Linked DNA regions of Homo sapiens. The protein of the gene in region 1 purifies or fractionates together with the protein of each later gene. This does not show direct contact. Each region holds a gene or a part of one and is shown in the gene's direction. Other genes may lie near its edges. The genes, in order: APOBEC3D, FAM120A, ELAVL2 and SAFB2.

Region 1 (2,689 bases):
GAGCTGAGATCGTGCCGTTGCACTCCCGCCTGTGCAACAGAGCAAGACTCCATCTCAGAAAAAAATAATAAAAAAATAAAGAGGAAGGAGAAGGATGGAATAAGGGAAACTCAATGAATAAAACGCCCTGGGGCCTACTATGCACCCAGAAAAATGAAAAGTAAAGAAATAAAATAAGGTCGTGCATGTGGTTTATGCTCATAGTCCTAGAAATTTGGTAGGCTGAGGCAGGAGGATGGCTTGAGCCCAAGATTTCGAGATCAGCCTGGGCAATGTGGCACGACTCCGTCTCCACAAAAATTACAAAAAAATTAGCCGGGCGTGGCAGCACACACCTGCAGTCCCAGCTAATCAGGAGGCTGAGGTGGGAAGATTCCTTGAGCCTGGGAGGTCAAGGCTGCAGTCAGCCCAGATCGCACCACTGCACCCCAGCTTGGGCAACAGGAGAGACCCTGTCTCAAAAATAAATAAATAAGAAAATGCCCTGGGGCTTCAGGCCTGCCCTCTTCTCCCATCGCCCCACCCCTACACTCCTCCTGCTCCTGGTCTGAGCTCCCCCTGCCCTCCTCCTCCTCCTTCCCCAGGTGGATCCTGAGACCCATTGTCATGCAGAAAGGTGCTTCCTCTCTTGGTTCTGTGACGACATACTGTCTCCTAACACAAACTACGAGGTCACCTGGTACACATCTTGGAGCCCTTGCCCAGAGTGTGCAGGGGAGGTGGCCGAGTTCCTGGCCAGGCACAGCAACGTGAATCTCACCATCTTCACCGCCCGCCTCTGCTACTTCTGGGATACAGATTACCAGGAGGGGCTCTGCAGCCTGAGTCAGGAAGGGGCCTCCGTGAAGATCATGGGCTACAAAGGTGAGACGTGGGGGGCTGAGGAGAGTGGGTGCGGGAGGGACAGCATGAGGGGCAGGTGGGTCTGCAATGCCGTGGGGCGGGGCAGTGTCCCCGGGAAGCCTGCAGGGATGGGGCCGGCGCCAGCTGCAACTGGCAGCCAGGAGACCTGGCTTGGGAGGGGAGGGCCCAGGGCCGGGAGAGAGGCTTGCTGGGCCCTCACTGCTTTCTCCTTGTTTTTTTCTCAGATTTTGTATCTTGTTGGAAAAACTTTGTGTACAGTGATGATGAGCCATTCAAGCCTTGGAAGGGACTACAAACCAACTTTCGACTTCTGAAAAGAAGGCTACGGGAGATTCTCCAGTGAGGGGTCTCCCTGGGCCTCATGGTCTGTCTCTTCTAGCCTCCTGCTCATGCTGCACGGGCCTCCCCTCCATCCTGCACCAGCTGTGCTTTTGCCTGGTCATCCTGAGCCCCTCCTGGCCTCAGGGCCATTCCATAGTGCCCCCCTGCCTCACCACCTCCTCCCCGCTCTCCCAGGCTCTTCTTGTAGAGGCTCTCCATCCACCTCCCCAGTCCTGTTCCCCCAGCCTGGGTGCCCCTAACTTGACTCTTCCCATCTCCCCAGCATAACCAAATCTTTTTTTTTTTTTTTTTTTTTTGAGACGGAGTTTCACTCTGTCGCCCAGACTAGAGTGCAATGGCTGGATCTCAGCTCACTGCAAACTCTGCTTACTGGGTTCAAGTGATTCTCCTGTCTCAGCTTCTGAGTAGCTGGGATTACAGATGCCTGCCACCACGCCCAGCTAATTTTTTTTTTTTTTTTTTTTTTTTTTTGTATTTTTAGTAGTGACTGGGTTTCACCATGTTGGCCAGGCTGGTCTTGAACTCCTGACCTCAGGTGATCTGCCCATCTCTGTCTCCCAAAGTGCTGGGATTACGGGCGTGAGCCACCCGGCTCGGCCGCACAACCAAATCTTATTAAACTCAATCTAGTCTGGCCCTGGTGACTCACGCCTTTCGGAGGCAGAGGTGGGAGAATCGCTTGAGCCCAGAAGTTTGAGACCAGCCTGGGCCACACGACAAAGCCCCATTTCTACAAAAAAAAATACCAAAAAAAAGCCAGATGTGGTGGCATGCACCTGTAGTTTAAGCTACTTGGGAGGATGAAGTGGGAGGACTGCTTGAGCCGGGGAGGTGGAGGCTGGAGTAAACTGAGATCGCGCCACAGAACTCCAGTTTGAGCAACAGATCAAGACCCTGCCTGAAAATAAATCAATAAATACACTCAACCTAAATGGATATGAATATATGTAAGTTGAAAACCAGTTTTGAGAAACATCCTTTGTAAGTTTCATCCTACGAATTGGGTCATTCATGTCCTACGCAGCTAAAACAGAGGCCAGCAGCCAGGGAGGAAAAGCAGTCAGGCCACACACCATTGCTCCCAAAATGGACTTATCTGCAAGCCTGACTCCTGAAACTGTGCATTGTACCCTGAAACCAGCTTTATCCATAGCTTCTGCCATAAATGGCTGTAAGTCTTGGACTCCTTGCTCCAAACGCAGTGACTCAGCAATGGAACCTCCCAGCTCCCAACACTTCCTAGTGCCCATGGTGGGCTTTCCCACAGGGCAAGAGAACATTTCTCCTTTTTTTTTTTGAAGTGGAGTCTCGCCCTGTCACCCAGGCTGGAGTGCAATGGCGCAGTCTCCGCTCACTGCAACCTCCACCTCTGTTGTTCAAGTGATTCTCCTGTCTCAGCCTCCCGAGTAGCTGGGATTACAGGCGTGCACCACCACACCGGGCTAATTTTTGTATTTTCAGTAAAAACGGGTTTCATCATGTT
Region 2 (7,900 bases), on another chromosome or scaffold:
AACACGGTAAGAAAAAAACAAACCAAGCAACAAAAACAAAAAGCAGGCAGTGCTGTGTTAGACTGAAAGTAAAAGATAAAAACTCTAAGAACCTATGAAGCGCCAGGGCAGTGCTGGTTGCTTTCACCCATATGGTCTCCTTTGGTGTTCTGCTGGTGCTTATGAAGCAGTATCCCTACTGACAATGACCCTAGCTTAAGAGGGCTGAGAACTGCTGAAAGTGAAGCTGTTTATAAATGGTACAGTCAGGACCGACAGACACATGGGTGTGGTATGACTGCAAAGTACCTGTGGAATTCAGATGGGATTACCATCCCCACTATAAAGGGCAATATGATCTGTTGCAGGAGGGTTTATAGGGTACTTAGTTACACAGGTCACACTGATCCCCTTTTCCTCTTTTTTTCTATGCAAGTATCTATTTGTCTATATGTCTGTCTACCTTGGTAGGTTGGGCTCCTTGAAGAAGGGTTATGTTTTCTTCATCTCCATATCCCCAGTAGCTGGCCAATGCCCAGTATACACCAGGGGCTCAGTCGCTGTTTGTCTTATTTTCTTGTTGACTCTACTCTGACTTAGGACATATCACTTTCCTCTCTTGACCTTCACATTCAGATGTGTTAATAAAAGTGGATAAAGACCACTCTAGCTTTAAAACACCCTCCAATATAGAGAGAACTCTGAAACCAGAAGCAGAAGCTGAGGAATGGTGAATAGAGCATTTTCCCTCACACGATGGGTATCAGGGTGGTTTCTTGTCCTTTCAATGCCTCTGCAGAACTTGACCCTAGTTTTTCAAATTGGACTCAAGAATGATCTTAGTGTTGGTGGTTTTGTGGTTTTCTTTGAGACTTTGTTATTGACAGAACAGCTTCTGGAAATCTGAAAAGAAAAAAAAAAAGGTAGTTTATATATTAGTTTGGAATATGAAATGTATTTTGTCATGGTCTCCAGAGTCCGAATATTGATCTCTGTGGAGCTCTCCTACCCTCTGCTACTGCTGATAACTCATAGTACTGGAGAGATAGCAGAGCCTGAAGACCAAAAAACTCAACTGCCGATACACGGCTGCAGTGTGGTCAGTTACTGATCTACCATTTATGAAGCAGGCCTACAGATGTGTGTGTTCTTCTGGGTAATTTAAATTGACAATTAATTAACAGGGCTGGTGCTAGGTAAACATTATAGGTTAGAATCCCTAGTGTGGATTAATTTGCTCTCTTCCATGATCGCAGACTCCCTGCTTAGCTCCAGTCTGCTGGTCTCCCAACATCTGCTAATGATTACATGGGCAGCATTAAGGTCTCTTATTACCTTGTTTGAAAAACTGGAAACTCATCTGTTATTGTTGGTGGTTAGATACCTCACCTAAGTAAAATATTAATTAATGATATTAGGCTGGGCGCGGTAGCTCATGCCTGTAATCCCTGCACTTTGGGAGGCAGAGGCAAGTGGATCACTTGAAGTCAGGAGTTCGAGACTGGCCTGGCCAACATGGTGAAACCCCGTCTCTACTAAAAATACAAAACTTAGCCAGGTGTGATGGTGTGTACCTGTAATCCCAGCTACTCCAGAGGCTGAGGCAGGAGATCACTTGAACCTGGGAGAGGGAGGTTGCAGTGAGCTGAGAACACATCATTGTACTCCAGCCTGGGCAACAGAGCAAGACTCCATCTTGGGGGAGAAAAAATAAATAAAATAAATACAAAATAAAAAAAGAAAAAGTCCCCAACCATTAGTTGTCATATTGTAACCTCCAAGAAGACATAACTTTTTATTAAATTTTAAATACAGATGTTTATTTTTTATTTTTTATTTTTAAGATGGAGTCTCGCTCTGTTGCCCAGGCTAGAATGCAGTGGCGTGATCTCGGCTCACTGCAAGCTCCGCCTCCTGGGTTCACGCCATTCTCCTGCCTCAGCCTCCTGAGTAGCTGGGACTATAGGCGCCTGCCACCACGCCCGGCTAATTTTTTTTTGTATTTTTTTTAGTAGAGACGGAGTTTCACCGTGTTAGCCAGGATGGTCTGGATTTCCTGACCTTGTGATCCGCCCACCTCAGCCTCCCAAAGTGCTGGGATTACAGGCGTGAGCCACTGCGCCCGGCCCAGATGTTTATTTTTACCTCAATATTTAAGCAATTTAACTTCAACCAACCCCTGAATTTGAGTTAAGGATGCAGAGTATATAAGTGTTTGTCAGCTAAACATTTTGCCCACCATCAATAGCTACTCAATAAATAAAGTTTTTTTTTTTTTTTTTTAAAGAACACAAAGCTAAATAGGGCAACTAAGAATTGAGTTTTATGTGTTATGATACAATAATGAATTTTAAACTTTCCAAAAGTACAATAACTGGTCTATGTTCTCGAGTATAAGTCTAGACAAATACAGTTTCTGGAAATAACTACAAAAGCCAACATTTATTGAGCATTTGTTGTGTGGCAGGCACACAGGTTATCTGATTTAATCCTTATAACAACCTGGGAGGTTAAGTACTATTAATATGTTGATTTTACAGATGATAAAATCCAAGGTTCAATAAGGTAAATATTTTTGCAAGGGCACAGACTTATCATAAGATGGATATTGGGGGCCTGACTCCAGAACCTTAGACCTCTACAATATAATAAGGTGAAAATAAATTTATTTCCAGAATTCCAGATACTGGCACTGGCATTTTTTTTTTTTTTTTTTTTTGAGATGGAGCCTCGCTCTGTTGCCAGTCTGGAGTGCAGTGGCGTGATCACTGCAACCTCCACCTCCCAGGTTCAAGCAATTCTCCTGCCTCAGCCTCCCGAGTAGCTGGGACTACAGGTGCGCACCACCACGCTCGGCTAATTTTTGTGTTTTTAGTAGAGATGGGGTTTTACCATGTTGGCTAGGATGGTCTCCATCTCTTGACCTCGTGATCTGCCCGCCTCGGCCTCCCAACGTGCTGGGATTACAGGCGTGAGCCACCACGCCCGGCCGCACTAATGCATTTTTAAAAATTAAAAGCAAGAGTGTTTAAAGAAAAGGTAAATACACGGAATGCAATGCTACAAATGAAAATACGAGTGATTAAAAACTACTACTCCTCACCTTGTGAACCTGCCTTGGGTTATAAAAGCAAATTTGGATATTTCTGGATTTTGCTCGTTATTTAATGGCTAACTGTATTATTTCTTTTATTTATTTATTTATTTTTGAGACGGAATCTCGCTTTTTGCCCAGGCTAGAGAGTGCAGTGGTGCCATCTCCGCTGACTGCAACCTCCGCCTCCCGGGTTCAACCAATTCTCCTGCCTCAGCCTCCCAAGTAGCTGGGATTACAGGCGCACACACCACCAGGCCCGCCTAATTTTTGCATTTTTAGTAGAGACGGGGTTTCACCATGTTGGCCAGGCTGGTCTCGAACTCCTGATCTCAAATGATTCACCCGCCTCGGCCTCCCAAAATGCTGGGATTACAGGCGTGAGCCACCGCACCTGGCCTGTATTATTTTTAGATAACATGTCATCCTGGCTTTGTGACTAATTTTATGCATAGGTGAGTGGCATAACTTGTCAGCCTGCTTTTAAATGTAACTTCCTAAAATACCAGCAGCATTTAATTTATGTACGTATGATACTGGCTTGCATTTGAGGTGGGTATCAGAAAAGAAAGCAGAAAAATCCAACTTGCCTTTTTCACCGGGAGTATGGGGGCTTCTTTGGCCAAACCGTGCGCGTGCAGGCTCCATGTGCTGGGCAGCAGCTGTCCGGCCACAGCCTGTCGGTTGCATCCTGCTCCTCTACAGAGGTTTCTCCAAAAAAAGAACAAATGGAGAGATGAAGGTAAGTAAAAGCGGCACTTTAAAACTTTTAGAGTGCTGGGTTTCTAAATTTATATTCTGAAAGACATTAATCTCTTTTTGAAAATGTTTTATGCAAGCCTAATATACATACAGTATCAACCTCATTTTAGAAGCAGTTACGACAGAGCTTTGGAACAGAATTTACGTAAACGACCTCCTTCCAGAAGATGCTACTAAAGCAACAAGATTCAAATCCCTCTCCCTCAGAAGAGCTGGGAGATCCACTGCAAAGGCGCACGTTTCAGTCTAGCCATTGCGCAGTGGTAACGCAGGCTTTCCCACGCTGCAACAGACCTGTGCTCTCAAGACAGTCTCTTCCGTGACGAGCAGGCGCTTAGGGCTACCTGTACCTTCAGACATTATGGTGTGTTTGGCCATGTCATTTGTCATAGGTGTAAAAACCACAACCGAGAGCCCGAAGCTGCTGGGATGAGCACCTGCCGCGGAACTGCATTCTCGCGCTCCTTCCTGCTCTTTCCAAGAAGCCAGGCGCGGCCGGCCAGCATCCCGCTCTCCCGGACCCCGCAGTCAGTGTGGGCAGCAGGCCCAGAGTGGTGCGAGCCGACGGCGGCGTTAGAAAGGCGGCGTCCCGACGAACAGAGTGACTCGGCCTCGGCTCCCCTTCAAAGCGCCATCTTATCGCTGCTTCCCTCAGGAGCAGGCGAGCTCTTCCCCAGGACCTGCTTCGCGGCTTCCCTTCGCCCGAGAACCACCGGGCGGAGGCGGCGGCCTCTCTGGCCCTGCCGGGAACAGGGCGCAGGGGAGGGGAGCGGCGGCCGACCGGCCTGAGGCGGGCGAACGGCCTCTGGCCTCCAGGCGCTGCCTGCTCCGGCTCAGAAGCCTCCCGGATCCCGTCCCGGCCCAACTCCGGGCCTCCGCCTCCGCCGCCGCCTCCGGGAGCCCCGAGCCGCGTCCCGCCGGCGCCGCCTCTTCCGCCTGCTAGCCGGCGGGCCTGGGCGGCGTCCGCGCCGGGCGGGTCCGCTACGTCAGCGCCGCCCGCCCGCCCCGCCCCGGCCCTCAGCCTCGGCCTCGGCCTCGGCCTCGCAGCGGCGGCAGCGGCGGCGGCGGCAGGTCCCTCCCCAGACATGGCCCTGGGAGGCGGCAGCACATGGCGGCCGCGGCGGCCATGAGCGCGCCCCCGACCCGCCCCAGTCCCCCCTAGAGGCCGCCGCCCCCGCCCGCCAGCCCGCCCGCGCGCCACGGCCCCACCACCCCCGGCCCCGCCGCCCCCCGCCCGCACCCGCGCCCGCGCCCCCGCCGCCGCCATGGGCGTGCAGGGCTTCCAGGACTACATCGAGAAGCACTGCCCGAGCGCCGTGGTGCCGGTGGAGCTGCAGAAGCTGGCCCGGGGCAGCCTGGTGGGCGGCGGGCGGCAGCGGCCCCCGCAGACCCCGCTGCGCCTGCTGGTGGACGCCGACAACTGCCTGCACCGCCTCTACGGCGGCTTCTACACCGACTGGGTCAGCGGCGGCCAGTGGAACCACATGCTTGGCTACCTGGCGGCGCTGGCCAAGGCCTGCTTCGGCGGCAACATCGAGCTCTTCGTCTTCTTCAACGGCGCGCTCGAGAAGGCCCGGCTGCACGAGTGGGTCAAGCGGCAGGGCAACGAGCGCCAGACGGCACAGCAGATCGTCAGCCATGTCCAGAACAAGGGCACCCCGCCGCCAAAGGTCTGGTTCCTGCCGCCCGTCTGCATGGCCCACTGCATCCGCCTGGCGCTCATCCGCTTCCACGTCAAGGTGAGGCCGGGGATCCGGGCGGGCCGGGGACCGGGGCCGCGCCGCACCCCTATCCCCCTTCCCAGGGCGCAGAATGTCGCCCGGCCGTGGCGGCGCTGGGGGCAGCGAGTTCCCCCAGCCCTTGCCCGGGATAGCCTGGCCGGGCCGGGCTGCAAGATGGATGGCCGCGGGTGCAGGCCGCGCGCTGCCCAAGCCCGTCTCCAGCTGTCCCTGTTCGGGGTCCGCGGCCGCGTGGGGACACTTGAGGGCTGGGAGAGAGCCCCGGACCAGAATTCGGAGGCGACAGTGTCATCATCCCCAATATCCTTAGTTTTTCCCATCCTATTTGAGGCGGGCAGGCTATCACTCACCTTCAACTTTGACAAAATACTCCCTTTTCTAATTTAGCCTGTTCTTTCCCAGCAACAGGTTCATCTTGGAAGCAGGCAGGATACAGAGTAATAGAGGGGGTTTCGCCAGAGCCCTTGGGGGCTGCAAATATCAGTGCTGCTGCCGCCGCCCTTGCCAATGTTGTTAGCCCGGTGACAGCGAGACGTGTCTAAGGGCCAGTGCCCTGGCCTCTACTTCAGAACGCAGTGCCCTGTCCGTGTTCCTCTTAGTACAGGGTGTTTAGAGAATCTTTCTATGGCTTTTTGTGTTAGATTTCAAAGACCCGTGCACTTTGACAGGATGGGATTTTGTCAGTTCTGTGACTTCACGTCCGTGTGAAAGAGGTCTTTAAGGCAGTTCGGTTTTGTAGATCCCATGCGAAAGGAGTCGCTCAAAATCAGGGGGCGAACTACGCGGGCGTGAACTCGCAGGATTTATTTTTCGGGTGCACAGTAAGTATTCAGTGACCTTCAGCGGTGCCCTGACGGGTGGGTAATCAGAGCTCTATATCACCGGCCTCCTCTGGCCCTTTGGCAGAGGGCTTCGCAGCTGGCACTGGGCCAGAGGAGAACTTCAGGACCCAGCAGTGACTGTGAAGATAAGCACATCCATGATCCTGGACTTCACGTTCTGATTGCTTGCTTTTTTCATTGGTTTTCTTGAAAACAAATTTTGGGGGCCTTTTTGTTGTCTTAGCTCTTGACACTCGGTCTTCCATCTTGTCATTTGACATTTCCTTGAAACTGCTGGAGCTGAAAGTTTGTGAAATTCTGTCTTCGCGGTTGCCCCCACTGCCCGCGAGGAGATGGTGGTAGTTAAGCCTAAAATGATAGCGGAAGTCCCACCCACGATCCGGTTGCAATTGGTGAGATGGTGTTTAAGTCGTGGGTGGAGGCGGCCGGCAGAGTCCCGATTGGCCCCTGCGCCTGGCAGACACACAGCTGCCATTCCTCAGGGAAGTTCGGGTGAGAGGAAGTGCCTGCCTTTTAATTTCTGAATCGGAGCCTGGGGCGCTCAGGGAAGTAAGGTGCTGCCATTTGTCTGAAGCGATCCATCTCCCTAATAGAGCGTAAAAGTGTTCATAGTTTAGTCTTGTTCAGAGATGGAAAAGACTACTTAAAAGACAGGATGAGCTGCACTGACTTGCCTTTGGTAACCGCACAGCTCTCTACTTAACTAGTCAAGCGACTTTCAAGGGAACACTGTGAATATTACTTAGGATTAGAATCAGTATGTATGCATATGGTCACTGTATCTTTAAAGAACTGTTGAGTTCTTTTTAATTCTACAGTTTCTTTATCTTTGCACCCCTTTGAATGCCTCGCACACCTAGTAGGTGCTCAGAATTCAGACCAATGTGTCAGTGTTAGGAAACTAGATTTAAGCTCCATTTAAGATCGTCTTTTTCACTTAGGTTTCTGGACACGGGATAATGGGATAATTTTGTCTGTATTTTGCTTTTGCTAAGCTTTTAATTATTGACCTAGGGTCATATTATAGTGCGAATTGCACAAAATGAATATTGTAATAACTCAATTACTTGGTGGTCTCTTAGCTGGCAACCTTACCTTTTTGAAAAGTGCCTAAGAGATTTAGCTACTAGAAATTTCTCAGCAACCAAGCAAGATGTCAGGAAGTTTGGGTACAGTGATGTGGGGGGTTGGCGGGTGTAGGGGGGTGCTTTTGCTTTCCTCACTGAAGAATCCTTTAAGCTCTCTCACTCATGGACTGGCCTCTTTTCATATGTAATTCTAACAAGCTTGGTTATCTATTTTCTAAACTCAGCTTGAGAAGAGGATGAAGAGGAGAGTCTGCCAGAGGCAGGAGCACCATTAATAGCAAGAAGTGACAAGAGAGATTTAAAAAGCTATAAAAAGCAAACATAATTCTGGGGCTATTTTAAGAAAAGGAAAACAACCCTATGTACTTCCTTGGTCCCTGAGGGTAGTACAATGTT
Region 3 (7,645 bases), on another chromosome or scaffold:
TCGCCTAGATTTTCCCTTTTTATGCTCAGGAAAAACGTGAGTTTATCCTCCTAAAAGTTGCTATTGAGTAAAAGAGGGGAAGGAAATCTGGGGACATTTGTGGGAGCGTCTACATAAAATAATCGTCGATCTGAGGCTGCAAATATATTTTCCTAGACACTCTGGGACATGTGCAACAGATCTTAGTCTGAATATCTGCAGGCAAATCATCTAAAGGAGAATGAACCTCATACATTGGTCCAGGAAAAAAAAAAAAAAGGTGTGTGTGTGTGTGTGTGTGTGTAAGTGGGGGGCTGGGAAGGGAGAACCAACCTAGGCTGGTCTCAAAGATTTACCGCGACACTAGTTACATTTTTTAAAAGAACATTTAAATGAACAATTCATGTGTCTTTAAGTGTAAACAGCAACCTCAGGATTCGGGGGGAATATTCCTTGAGTGTGCTCTCTTACTTTACAGTCTTTCCCCCTTGAACAGGAGTTTACAGACACAATGTAAAGAGAAAGTAAAGGATGTTTGAGATCCCGCTCACTGCCGCCCCTGGCACTGTCCCTAACGAAAGTGTTTGCAATGTAAAGAATCTTTCGCAAAATAGTCTTGGGAGTCACTCACCTTCCAGTAAAAGGCTTTACCCCTTTGCTAGGGGGTGGAGGGAGCAGGGAGAAGAACGGGGGGAGGGAGCAAGGGTGAGCAGGCAGGCATTTTTGCTGCAATTCCAGCTGGGATATTCGAGGATTAAAAACTCTGGAGCAGGTTTACCAGACTTTTCGAAGACTACCTGGATTTGCATTTATTTTTCATGAACACTCTGAAGAAAGGCGAGCTCACGCCGGCAAGGGAGTGTATGTAAAACAGGACAGTGGAAGGTGCACAGCGAGTTCGGGGCTCTAAGTCTCCTGACAGTTTGTCATGATGGCTGAGTCCTAAGAAATGCCAGCCTAATTCAAAATAAATGAGTTTCTGTGGAGTAGGACAGTCTTTTCCGCAAAGTCCCGTGGAATAAAACATTCCCAAGACACGCAGTTTCCGTGTCTCACAGAAAGGGACAGAAAACACCGTCTCAAGCTTTGCAAATCTTAATTTGAGGGCTGCTCGTCTCTGTCCATGGTGCTAATTCCTGCCTCTTTCTCTTGCGTGGTTGCCACGGTATAAATTCACACTGGTGTCAATTTTCACAACTTTTCCCCCCTTTCGGTGAAAGGCAAGTCCACATACTACTTTAGGAAGAATAAATAAAAGAGTAATCAGCAAGATATATGATATCTGTATTTCTCATGCAGACATTAAACTATCATATTTCCAATAGTATGAACCATAACCCCCTACTCCACCATACTAACACATAACATTTTTATTCATCTAAGAAGGTTTACTGTTGGAAATTACTGCCTTAAGCCAAACATTGTAAACTAATTTTAATAGTTTAACTTCTTTATTTACTTACAAAACGTTACAAGTAGTTTACAGTAACTTTTATTACAAAATGTAAAATCACTCCTTCCCTTGCTCCCAGGACCTCTAGTGTAAGGGAGTTATTTATCCTAAAAGACATTTTCCACAACAGCTTTGCATATTCTTATGAATAAATGTTCTCTTATATAGAAACTTCAGTAAAATAATTAAATTCATGACTTTTTCGGTTTTGAGAACTATTCTTTTGCAACTTTATCCACCTCACACTTTTGCTCCAAGTTCGCAGTCATTCCCTTCATCTCTCCCTTTTCTGCTGCAATTCAAAATAATGCCAGGAACTTGGAAGATATGTCAGAGTTCATATAACTTAATCATATTCAAATGTCTTTTAAATACTTTCTAATGCAAATTCAGATGTTGTGGATAATTCTTTTACCAAACTATGAGTGAAAAGGGGTTGATTGCATTTTTTGCTTATTCTTAAGTGAGATGTTTGCACATAGGCTTCATTAATTAATCATAGGATAGTATGTATTTGTTAATGTTTCAAGCTATGAGACATGAATTTCAAAGTGAAATCTACATCCAGATATCACTTGTTTTAAAGAGGCTGTAATCAATATTTTTTATTTTTAAAAGTTGAAAAAGTACATGTTGCTTATAATACATCTATCCATTTAAAAGTTTTAAAATGTAAAAACATCTGTTTTAATGAGGAAGTAAAATAATATTTTAAGATACTTTCACTTTTTAAATAATTTAAGTCCATCTCACCTACATAAAAAGACAACATGTTAGGGATGACAATACTTTGAATAATATTTTGTCACTATGCCCAAGCTGAAAAAAAACCATAAATACTGAATCTACAGAATTTAGCATTTTTCATTTGAATGAACAAGTTTACTATTTTCCATGTAATTTCTTTACATAATACACATGCTAGATTTTTATTACTCCATATCACTCCCAGCTTTTCACACCTGTCCCTATCATTTTGGGTTATCTACAGATATCACAGTTATCTACAAGTCTTTTTTTGTGGATATAAACATGCACCAAAAAAAGTATTAGTTTCCACCTAGTTAGAAGGCACTTATATAATTATAATGGTAAAGATTTACTTCAATGTACTGAAATTATATGGGCATATGCAACTAATTCAATATTAACCTACGAGCATGGTAAAAAGGAGGAAAGACAATTCACTGCCTAGGTAAGTCTGATGAAATCAAACAGTATTATACTTTCCCCAAATTGTATTCATTTAAAGGTTATTTCTCTGTATGGAGCTGGGGACAAGGGGAGGGGTTGAAGGAAGATGACTACAAACCCAATCTTCTGTTATTCATACATCTAGTCTAGATGGGGTGGAGTCTTCCTTTTCCCCCTTGACTCCATTTCTTCAAAGTGCTTTTCTTTCTTCTTGCTGTGAGTTTCACCCAGGTCTAGAGAATAGTTTTAAGTTGAAATTAAGACTCCAGAGGTTGTTATACAAAAACTGGGGGTGGAGGTTAAGGCATGATTTTATAAACACTAATTATAAGATAACATAGATTCAGGCCTTCTTTCTCAAGCCCCAGGTATTGTCATGCAAAGTAACAGAACTCGTATATTGTTATACAGGCTACACGGGAGATAAACAGGTCTGTTTTTCACCATTAATCATTTATCAACACTCAAGGACACTCTCAAAGAACACTGATTTACTGTATTCCTCACTTCAAAGTCATTTTGCTTTGGGATCTTCTGTCCCATTCCCCTCCATGACACCCTACCCTTTTGCAATCTCTAACTCTTACCTGTGTCTTCTTTTTCCGGCATTCTCAAAGATAGCGACTAGTTGTAAATATGTAAAGGAATCCCTTTCAAAAAGGCATGTGCCTCTGGTTAAGACACATTACATGTGTAATGTAATGTGTACATTACATTTACACATTCTGGTAAGAATGGTAAAAACTGTCTAGGAAGTTGGTGCTATCTTTCAAGATTGAAAAGAGAAATGCTGGCTGGAAAAGAACGTAGGTCAAATGAATATTGTGTCTACTTATACATCCAGACGATCCTGAGGACCTCACTTTCACTTAGAGGAAGAAACAATTATCATGCATAAAACTGTATTTTGGTCTCCTGAATGCTGTTAAAATATGGGGTTGTAATAAAGTAGTCTTCCTCTATGAAGCAGAAGCATTGATAGCACTTGGTCTTCTGGTTAAACTTCTTAAATCCTCACAGAAAGAGCCCTGATAAAGGTTCAACTATCTTTGCTGTCAGCAATACATGTGTGGTCCAAGGACTGTACCTGTCTGCAAATGCAGAGGAGTGGCTTGTTCCAGTTTTATATACAGCTGCTCTTTTTGAGAATCATTAGACACCTCGAAGTGAAGGACCTTAGCTCTACTCAATACCTCTTTTTCTGGATAGGATATTTATCCTACACTTTTCTATTCTAACATGAAGTGAAAGCCAATTCAAACCGTGCAGCTTTATTTGAGAGCATTTCTGACTTCATCTTTATCTTAAAAGGATGCTTTAAAAAGGGGTTCATGGGGACACATAAATCTGAAATATGCGTATATTAAAATAAAGACATACAATTACCTAACATCTAATACAAAATACAGTACTGAACACAAATCGAAAAAAGGCATGCGGGCAAATAATGGATGTACATTCATCCCTTTCACTCAGATCAAAGAGAGGGAGCTCTCAATGACTCATACATACCGGACAGAGTTAAATGTTATAAAGAAATATGCCACAGATGCAGCAGTGATGGCAAAGGAAATGAATCTTTCTGAAGCAGAAAGATTTAAGAGGAAAGGAGATCGTGCCATATCGCAAACTCTGATAGTACAGTTCCAACCCTCCCACGTTGCTCTCTCCACATTTCTTTTTGCTTCTTGCATTTCCCTTCGCCGCCAGTGTTAAGAGTGTACCTCCCCGCACAACTTACCTTGAAACGGGACTCCATTGAGCTCTCGAGAGTGACACAAGCCCATAGCCAATCGTCTCACGCGGCCCCGCCTGGGCGGCCTCAATGGAAGCGTGTGGACCAATCAGGATCCTGGGGCGATGAGCAAGTTACGTTGTGGCGCGATTCGGCGTATACTTCCGCGCGTGCTGCCCGGGATAGGAGCCTGGCAGAGCAGCTGCACACACGGCAGTGCGGAGGCAGAGAAGGGGTTGGTGATACGGTGCTATAAATCTGTGGTCCAGTCCACCTCCCTTTTAAGACGTCCTCCCCCCTATTTCTGTTCTTAGTTAGAGATGCAGCAGCTTACTCCTGTAGCGACCTACTAAAAAGCAACAAGGAGAAAGACATCGTCTTTTTGAAAAAACGTTCTTTCGTCTCTTTTCTTTGTTCCTTGGTTTGTTTTTCTTGCCCCTTTTTGTTTAGTTGAACGGCAATAGGAGGGTAGTCTCTCCGTCTTTTTAAACTCTTTTTTAAGTTTCCCCTCCCCTTTCATATTTTTTTTCGCCATTTCTTTTAGCATTGGACTTTGGGGTCGAAAGCGTTTCTTTTTATTTGCTTCTTTTAAGCCGAGCACAGTTTAGGTTTCGTGCTGTCTTAAGAGAACTATCCAGCAGCTTCTTGCTCATCCTTATTGGGAGAACTGCACCGTTACTTTAAAAACACACATACACAAAAACCTTAAGGGAGAAAGGTAAGTTTCGGTTTGGTTTCTTTAATCATTAGTTGCAGCGATGCGCTGGCAAACCCAGAAAACCTGTAAGTGAGCGGAATACAGAATATGAAGTTAATTGCACATGTTTGTCTCATTTCAAAGCTACTGTTCTGCTTTTTTAATTTTAAAGAGCTAGACTAAAAGACGGTGGACGCATGCTTAGCGTACTGAATATTCGTAAATGTCCATGGCAGAAACTTAAGTGGTAAATGTGGCCAGGGGGGAGTAGGGGTACAATGGGAGGTTAGATGTGGAGTGAGCTTCAAGATTGAGATCGGAAGTTCATTTCGTGGGGAGAGAGTGATAACTTGGGTGTTGGGGATGCATGCCTCTACTTTGGCTCAGCAACGGAAGGACGGGAGAGGCTTTACAATCATTAAGGGGAATCAGAAGCCTGGACTGGCAGATTAGACCAGCGAAAACCACAGGCTTAATTGCATTAACCAGATAGCATGTGCTGGGGAGATGGGATTGCCAGATGGAATTTAGATGCTGCACCAGGCAGCGAGTTGTAGTTGACTGAAAAAAGTACATGCCGCCTGAGGGCTGGGGCTGGGGCTGGGCTGAGGCTAGGGTTGTTAGAAGCTGTCAGAACTCATCATTGTATGCGGGCTCTGATTCACGGACTCCAATTATCATAATTCAGTTTTAAAAGAAGATAGCCAATTTGGGGCTGAATTCTTAAGCCTGTACCGGATATGAGATTCCCTTTGTTCAGAAAAGCGTAAATAAGATCCTTGGAGCTGTGTCTATGAAGTGCCGGCTGCTTGGGAGCCTCGCTGTGCTGGGCGCTGGGAAGTGGATTCCAAGCCCTGTCCTTGGTCCTACGCGGCTGACTTCGCCTTCGGGGAGAGGGGGAACCCCTCTGCAGCCGCGAGGCTTCGCAGCCACCCCAGGAGCCAACTCGGCCACGTAGCCCTCACCCCCTCCTTACCGCCCCCACTTCCTCGAATAGCTATTGTTAAATTGACGCCAGGAGAAAGATGGTTGGGGATGACAAGCTGGGCAGATAGGCACACGCTTCATTTTAACTTTTGTGATTTCTCAGGGTTTAGGAGAAATCATTTGGCTTTCTACTGCCAAAGAGAGGATCCAGGGTAGATGTGGGAAAGGGGGAGGATGTTCGTGGGCCGGGGAGGGCGGAAGGGGTGGTGGTGGTGGAACAAGCTGCTGGCTTTCCTAAGAGAAGTTTAAATTATTGGCACGAGGGGGTGTGGGTGAGTGTGTGCGTGAGAGCGCTCATGTGGTGCTCGAGAGGCAGAGGATGGGAAAAAGCTACAAAGCCGGCTGGGGTTAACGTCTCGTTGCTCCTCACCCCACCCACTCTACCGGCTGGGAAAGCCAGCGCACCGTCAGCCTCCCGGACTGGACTCTGCGAAGGGCGGTGGGGGCTAGGGATGGCAAGGTGGCAGTGCCCACCACTGGAGCTCCGCGGCGGACGAGACCTCGCGTGGCCATTGTTGCTTAATTTATGCCCAGCACGTTGCTACGTACCCACCTATTTCACGTCTGTACAGAATTAATACGAAAGCTATACAACTGTGACAAATTGGAGGTTGGATAAGTTCCCCGTTTCCCATTTTCAAGTACCGGTTAGCAAAACTGATGGCGAGACTGGGTATTTTCTCGTAATTACCGGCTGCAGGTCTGGTTTTATTATGGCGAGGGTGAGAGAAATAGCCAACCATTTAGTATTTACTGTTAACACTGCTGGACAGGGATGGAGGTCTCTGTACTTTCTCCCCGAAATGCACGGATTCTGTCCCTTCCCCCTCTCATGTACAAACACTCCAGTTGGTTAAGATTCTAAACCTTCAGCCGTTCTCCGCACCCCTATTTATTATACCCATCCTCTGGGGGTGGGAGGGAGATTAATGTTTTATTTCCCAGGCCTACACTATTAACTGCAACCTATAAAACGTAGACTTACAATGAAAATTTTTAGAAAGTACACAGCAGACAATAGTAACTAAAGAAATTATTTTCCAAATTGAAAATCAGTTTCTAAAGGTCAGAAAAAGGGTGTTCGTGTTTTGGGGAACAGAAGGGTAGGAAATGTGTTTGGGCCTTAAGACTTCCTTGTAAAATGGCTTCTTAAATGGGACATCTGAAAGATTTGTCAGACTATGAACAGATAAGCCCGCAAAAAAATATGTTGAGAGTTTCGAAGTTGTTATGGGGTTAACATTTTATTTTTTAACTCTCGCCCTTACTTATTGCTGTCATTGCCTGAATGTGTCTTACAGCAGGCACTTCTTCCCCGTTCCCTCTTTTAACCAAGTGCTTGGGCACCCCGCTTCATAAAGCTAACCTGTTCTGGAGCTCTTCACAAAAAACGCTACGGTTGTAGGAAGAAGTGGTTTGGAAGACTTGGGGAACTCTTCTGAGAGCTCTCCCATAATTTAGTCAGCGTCAGGAAGTAGGGCGTAGGGCATTCTAAGAGTTTTAGGTTTGGATTGACAAATTAAGTAGGCCCATTTTCGCCTAACGTTTTGGAAATAGGCATTTTTAGCAATCCCGCGTGCCTGGGATGAGAATATTATAA
Region 4 (5,316 bases), on another chromosome or scaffold:
GGGAGGGTTCGAGGCCAATGATGGGAGACCACCGGGATGGGCAGGTGAGTAGAGCCCCGATGCCAAGCCCTGGGGCCACTGTACTGCTGTGCAGGCATAGCGGACCATTTCTAGCCAGGCGGCCGCTTGATCCCAGAGAGGTGGCAACCAAGTCAGCACGTGTGGCGGGTATGCAAGTGTGGGTTCTGGCCAGCGACTAGAAGTACAAATATTTAGTCGGACGTGGTGGCTCATGCCTGTAATCCCAGCACTTTGGGAAGCTGAGGTGGGTGGATCACAAGGTCAGGAGTTCAAGACCAGCCTGGCCGACATGGTGAAACCCTGTCTCTACTAAAAATACAAAAAATTAGCCAGGCATGGTGGCGAGTGCCTGTAGTCCCAGCTACTCGGGAGGCTGAGGCAGGAGAATCGCTTGAACCCGGGAGGCGGAGGTTGCAGTGAGTCGAGGTCGCACCATTGCACTCCAGCCTGGGCAACAAGAGCAAGACTCCGTCTCAAAAAAAAAAAAAAAAAAAAAAAGCGCAAATATTTGATTGTTTTGTAATGCTCAAGTTTCTGTCATTTTCAAATATGTTGGGCTTGTTCTTCATTGTATCCGGTAGAAACCTCATGTGTCTCTTCATTGTCCACTTGCTCAGGGAGCCTTTGGGTCTTAGTGCCTGTGGGGTCCCCCAAGAACCCAAATGGTGGTTGTCGTTTAGCCCACATGTGCCAGGGTCGGGGGGATGGGGGAGCCCGGGCTTCCCCATGTTTCAAGTCCGTGCTTGGTGGGCACGGGGGGCTGAAGACCACAAGAATGGTCCCTGAGTCTCTGTGGTGCCATGCGGGTGCCCCGTGCGTGGTGGCAGGGTGTGAGTTCTGAGAAAGCAGCAGCCTGGTGGAGAGGTGGGAGGTGGGCGGCAGAGTAATGGCCTGTAACAGCAGGCAGCACCCGCCTGCTTCCTGGCTGCTGGCTGCTCCGTGCAGAGTTGGTTGGCCAGGGAGGCCGGAATTGTGGCCCTGCCAGAGCACAGGGGGGCTGACCCACCCGAGGGCCCTCCTGTTATCGGAAAGGAGGCGGCGCCCAACTTCTCAGGGAAGACAGGGTTTGGTGACGTCTTAGTGGATCTTGAGCAGAGCTGTTGAGGGCAGTAATGCCAGGGTGCCCTGGCTCCTGGGGCAGCTCAGGTGGGGCAGTGATGCAGCTGTAGGGGTGCGAGGAGGGGAGCCAGGGAGCAGAGGGTCAGTGAAGCAGGGCCCAGCAGGGCTGAGACTGCACCCTTCAGTCCTCTCTCAGCTCCGCCCCACCTGCCACCCTGGGGCCTGCAGTGGACAGGCCTTCCGGAAGGTGGGCCTATGTGGGTGACATGGTCAGTGTCACCCTGTTCCTCTCCTGCCTTCCAGCACTATGGAGATGACCGCCATGGCCACGGAGGACCCCCAGAGCGCCACGGCCGGGACTCCCGTGATGGCTGGGGGGGCTACGGCTCCGACAAGAGGCTGAGTGAAGGCCGGGGGCTGCCCCCTCCCCCCAGGTTAGTGGGTGAGCCCCAGCCGGGTGGGGAGCATCTGTCCTAACCTGGGAAAAGGTTGGTGCCTGGCCAGGCACGTCCCCAAGGTTTGATTCAGCTAGGGGAGCTTTAGGATGGGCTACCAGGGGTCCTGCCATTTGAAACCCCTGACTCAGAAAGTCCAGGTTCTCAAGAAGAAAGCATAGAACAGGCTTTCAGGGATGGAGCTGTCCAGGTCGCCCAGAATGGCCCATCCCCATTCTTGAGCTGGGGGTCGCCTGCAGTTGTGAATGTCTCGATCATGGGCTGCGTACACACTGGGAGAGACAGCGCTGAAGCTCTTAGTCCTGCCCCGTCCGTGGTAGAGCAGCCTCGCCCCTGCCTCCACGTTGCCTCTTGACACGTGTCTTCCTCGGGTTTTTTCTCTGACCCCCAGTTGGTCTGGGGTGGATCTTCTCAACCCTATCCTGCCTATTAGAATCACTTAGGAGGACCCTCCACCCAGGACTCAGGGCTGAGGACACTGGGCCAGGTCCTCCACAGGTGTCCAAAGCCACCTTCACCAGCACTGCAGTGGGGGTGCTGTTCTGAGCCTTGTCAGCATTGGTGGGGGGCAGGGCTTGTCTGGGAGGACTCTGGGTGCCTCTCTAGTTTCTTTGGCCAGCTGCAGTCACCCCTGCCTGTTTGTCCTGTTGCCGTCTGGGCTGGCCGTGAGGAGGCTGGTGGCAGGACTGCTTTGCGGCTGCTGCCCTGCTTTCCTCTGTGAGCCGAGTGTCCTGTCTTGTCTCCAGCCCTGGCCCAGGGCTGCCTCGGACCCTGCCCAGCGCCACAGGGTGGGTTTTGGCCCCCTGTGCTCCCCCGTTCCATCCCTCCCTCCGCGCTGAGAGGCACTTCCAGCTCTGCCAGGGACTTTGACTCGGTGCTGTGCCGAGTGTCCCAGGACACCCGAAGCTTCTCCTGAATCTCTGGGCAGCACAGACGGTGGCAGTGCTCTGATCAGTTGGTGTGAAGTGTTCTCTCCTGTGAGACTTCATTAGCATTCCTGTCCTGTCGCTTGCTGGGTGTTATGGTAAATACCTCGGGAGTGTAAACGGGAAACTCACCCATGGTGAGCAGCGGCTGGGCGCCATCGGGTCACCGAGGGCAGGTTCCACACGGGAGCTTTCCGCTCCCTCCAGGGCGGTATTGCACTTGCCTGGCAGTGCGCGCTGGGGGCTCTGGTGGCCCCTCTCGGGCCTGTGGGCTGGCTCACTTGGCCTGACTGTCACTGCATCCGGCAACCCACAGCAGGCAGGCACTCGTGCAGATGGGTCTGGCTGCTTTCCTGCACGGCCACTGTGACTGCTTGGCCACTTGGGACTCAGGACACTGGACTCGGATTTTCATCTCCCAGAGTTTGTCTGAAACTTTAAACAAATAGCTTTCTTTAAGTATAGTTCACACGACACACACTTCCCGTTTCACGTGTGCAGTCAGTGGAGGTTTGCGTGTACGTGGATCTGTTTAGCCATCCCCACGGCTGATTCTGAAGCATTTTCATCACGTCAAAAGAAACCCTGCCCCTTTTAGCAGCTGCACCCTCCCCCCTGCCCTTGGTAGCCACAGGTCCCTTTCTGGCTCTGGATTTGCCGTCTTGAGTCATTTCTTGGCCTGCGCGGTGTGCCTGCTGGGCCTGGCTTCTCCCTAAGCCTTGGGTATTCAGGGCTCATCTCCACATGCTGCCTGGGCCAGCGCTTCCTTCCTAGTTAGGGCTGAACATTCCATGGTCCAGACACACTACATAGTGTTATCTGCTCATCAGTTCATGGGTGTTGGGGTCCTTCTCCCTTTGGCTGTTAGGAATCCTGCCGCTAGGAACATTCATGCACAGATGTCTTTGGCCATGTTTTCATTTCTGGCAGGTAGGAATGGGTTTGCTGGGTCATGGTAATTCTGCGCTTAACTTTTTGAAGAACCACCAAACTTTTCCACAGTGGCCACACCATTTTACATTTCCACCAGCAGTGGACAAGGGTTCTTCCCTTTCCTCGCACCCTCCACGGTGTGTGTTATTGTGTGATTCTAGCATCCCAGCCAGGGGGAGGTAGCATCTCGGTGTGGCTCGGATTGGCATTTCTGGGTGGCGTTGAGCACCTTCTCACGTGCTTACTAGCACATCTGTCTTTGGGGAAATGTCCCTTCCCTTGATTTGCCCACTTGACATGCAGCCCTTGTTGTGTGGCATGACCCACCATGCAGCTGAGGTCAGGGTGGGTGCGCCTGCTGCCGACACAACCCTGGAGGCTCATTAGATGGCTGCATGTCTTTTTCTTTTGGCAAAGGGGTGGCCGTGACTGGGGAGAGCACAACCAGCGGCTAGAGGAGCACCAGGCACGCGCCTGGCAGGGTGCCATGGACGCAGGCGCGGCTAGCCGGGAGCACGCCAGGTGGCAAGGTACGGGGCTGGCTCCAGGGACGAGGGTGGCTGTGGCCCCCACATGTGTCCAGGGGCTTCCCCAGGAACGGAGTGTTTGCAGACCCTTCTTCTCTTCTAGGTGGCGAGAGGGGCCTGTCTGGGCCCTCGGGGCCGGGGCACATGGCAAGCCGCGGTGGAGTGGCGGGGTAAGGTGTGTCGTCCGTGGAGGACGGTGGTTCACTCCTGCTCCTCACTTCCTCTCCCTTTTTTGCATGTTTGATCAGCTGGCTGGGTTGGATGTTATGAAAACAAAGCAAAAAGCAGCTCTTTGCAATTTATGCAAATAACGCTCTTGAGTTACCTGGAATACAATGTGCGATGATGATTTTTCTCACCTGGAAAAAAAACCCAAGCGCTCTAAAGGCTGCGGGACCGTTACTGAACCCATGTTACGATGAAAACGCTGAGCACTTCAAGGGGAAAAAAATTGTCTGACTTTGTTCCTAGGCGAGGCGGCTTTGCACAAGGTGGACATTCCCAGGGCCACGTGGTGCCAGGTGGCGGACTGGAAGGTGGCGGAGTGGCCAGCCAGGACCGGGGCAGCAGAGTCCCTCACCCACACCCTCATCCCCCCCCGTACCCCCACTTCACCCGCCGCTACTAAGTCCCACTCGCTGCGAGTTTTCGGGTGGGCAGACGCACTGTTGAATCTGGTAGCCAGGGTTCCCTCGAACTTGGGGGATCTTTTTAAAAGCAAAGTAAATCCTGCCACCATGTTGTAGCTCAATACAATGTGAACTCACTTTTTTTTTTTTTTTAAATAAATGTGTTCTTGTTCTGCCATTTTTAAATCAAGGTTTCTGTTAACGAGGCATTCCATTTTCCATTAATAAAGTTTACCATTCGCAGTCTTGCGTGCGCGTGCACATGCGTGAGTCCTGGTGGCCGTAGAGCTCGGGATGGGACCAACCCTGGGCGCAGTGGTGTGACCACATGGTGACTGTTGGCTCTGCCAGGTGCTGCCAAAGTCTTTTGCCTGCATCATCCTGCTGAGTTGTCATAACCACCTCAGGAAGTGGGCTGTCCGGGTTCCCATCATGGGATGAAACTGAGGCTGGGGAGTCAGCCCATGGGAACTAGGAATTCTTCAGGGGGTGCTGTGCACCATAGGGCCCTCAGACCAATCCCTTTACCCCGAGCCTGTCTCTGCGTGGGTAGTGGTGAGGGCGTGCCAGGCCCTGGGGAGCCCTCCCCCTGCCACCTCAGTCTGGGGCTGTGTCCCATGCTGGTGTGTGGTGGGCTCTGTCAGGGAGGGTCCGTGTGTGGTGGGCCCGCCCCTCCCCTGGCTGCCAAGTGTGTCCTGCTCAGTGTCTGCTGCCAGCAGCTGGTTAGGAGTGGGATGGCGCTGACTCGGTGATGGGCCCACGTGGT

Evidence for each region.
Region 2: the proteins of APOBEC3D (region 1) and FAM120A purify together in Homo sapiens (affinity purification with mass spectrometry; 2 studies listed by BioGRID and IntAct, with this or other methods). This does not show direct contact.
Region 3: the proteins of APOBEC3D (region 1) and ELAVL2 purify together in Homo sapiens (affinity purification with mass spectrometry; 2 studies listed by BioGRID and IntAct, with this or other methods). This does not show direct contact.
Region 4: the proteins of APOBEC3D (region 1) and SAFB2 purify together in Homo sapiens (affinity purification with mass spectrometry; 2 studies listed by BioGRID and IntAct, with this or other methods). This does not show direct contact.

Annotation. Positions count from the first base shown.
Region 1 is NC_000022.11:39,031,110-39,033,798, forward strand, and holds the end of APOBEC3D (DNA dC->dU-editing enzyme APOBEC-3D), read left to right. Parts: intron 1-584; coding exon 585-864; intron 865-1,088; coding exon 1,089-1,207; 3' UTR 1,208-2,168; downstream 2,169-2,689.
Region 2 is NC_000009.12:93,446,816-93,454,715, forward strand, and holds the start of FAM120A (constitutive coactivator of PPAR-gamma-like protein 1), read left to right. Parts: upstream 1-4,869; 5' UTR 4,870-5,100; coding exon 5,101-5,574; coding exon of another isoform or gene 5,575-5,894; exon of another isoform or gene 5,895-6,786; intron 6,787-7,900. Other genes in the region: uncharacterized protein FAM120AOS, read right to left, coding at 796-882, 3,664-3,784, 5,332-5,894. UniProt on the Homo sapiens protein: Component of the oxidative stress-induced survival signaling. May regulate the activation of SRC family protein kinases. May act as a scaffolding protein enabling SRC family protein kinases to phosphorylate and activate PI3-kinase.
Region 3 is NC_000009.12:23,823,240-23,830,884, reverse strand, and holds the start of ELAVL2 (ELAV-like protein 2), read left to right. Parts: upstream 1-4,644; 5' UTR 4,645-5,079; intron 5,080-7,645.
Region 4 is NC_000019.10:5,586,476-5,591,791, reverse strand, and holds the end of SAFB2 (scaffold attachment factor B2), read left to right. Parts: coding exon 1-44; intron 45-1,383; coding exon 1,384-1,514; intron 1,515-3,811; coding exon 3,812-3,924; intron 3,925-4,024; coding exon 4,025-4,091; coding exon of another isoform or gene 4,092-4,095; exon of another isoform or gene 4,096-4,096; intron 4,097-4,392; coding exon 4,393-4,549; 3' UTR 4,550-4,793; downstream 4,794-5,316. UniProt on the Homo sapiens protein: Binds to scaffold/matrix attachment region (S/MAR) DNA. Can function as an estrogen receptor corepressor and can also inhibit cell proliferation.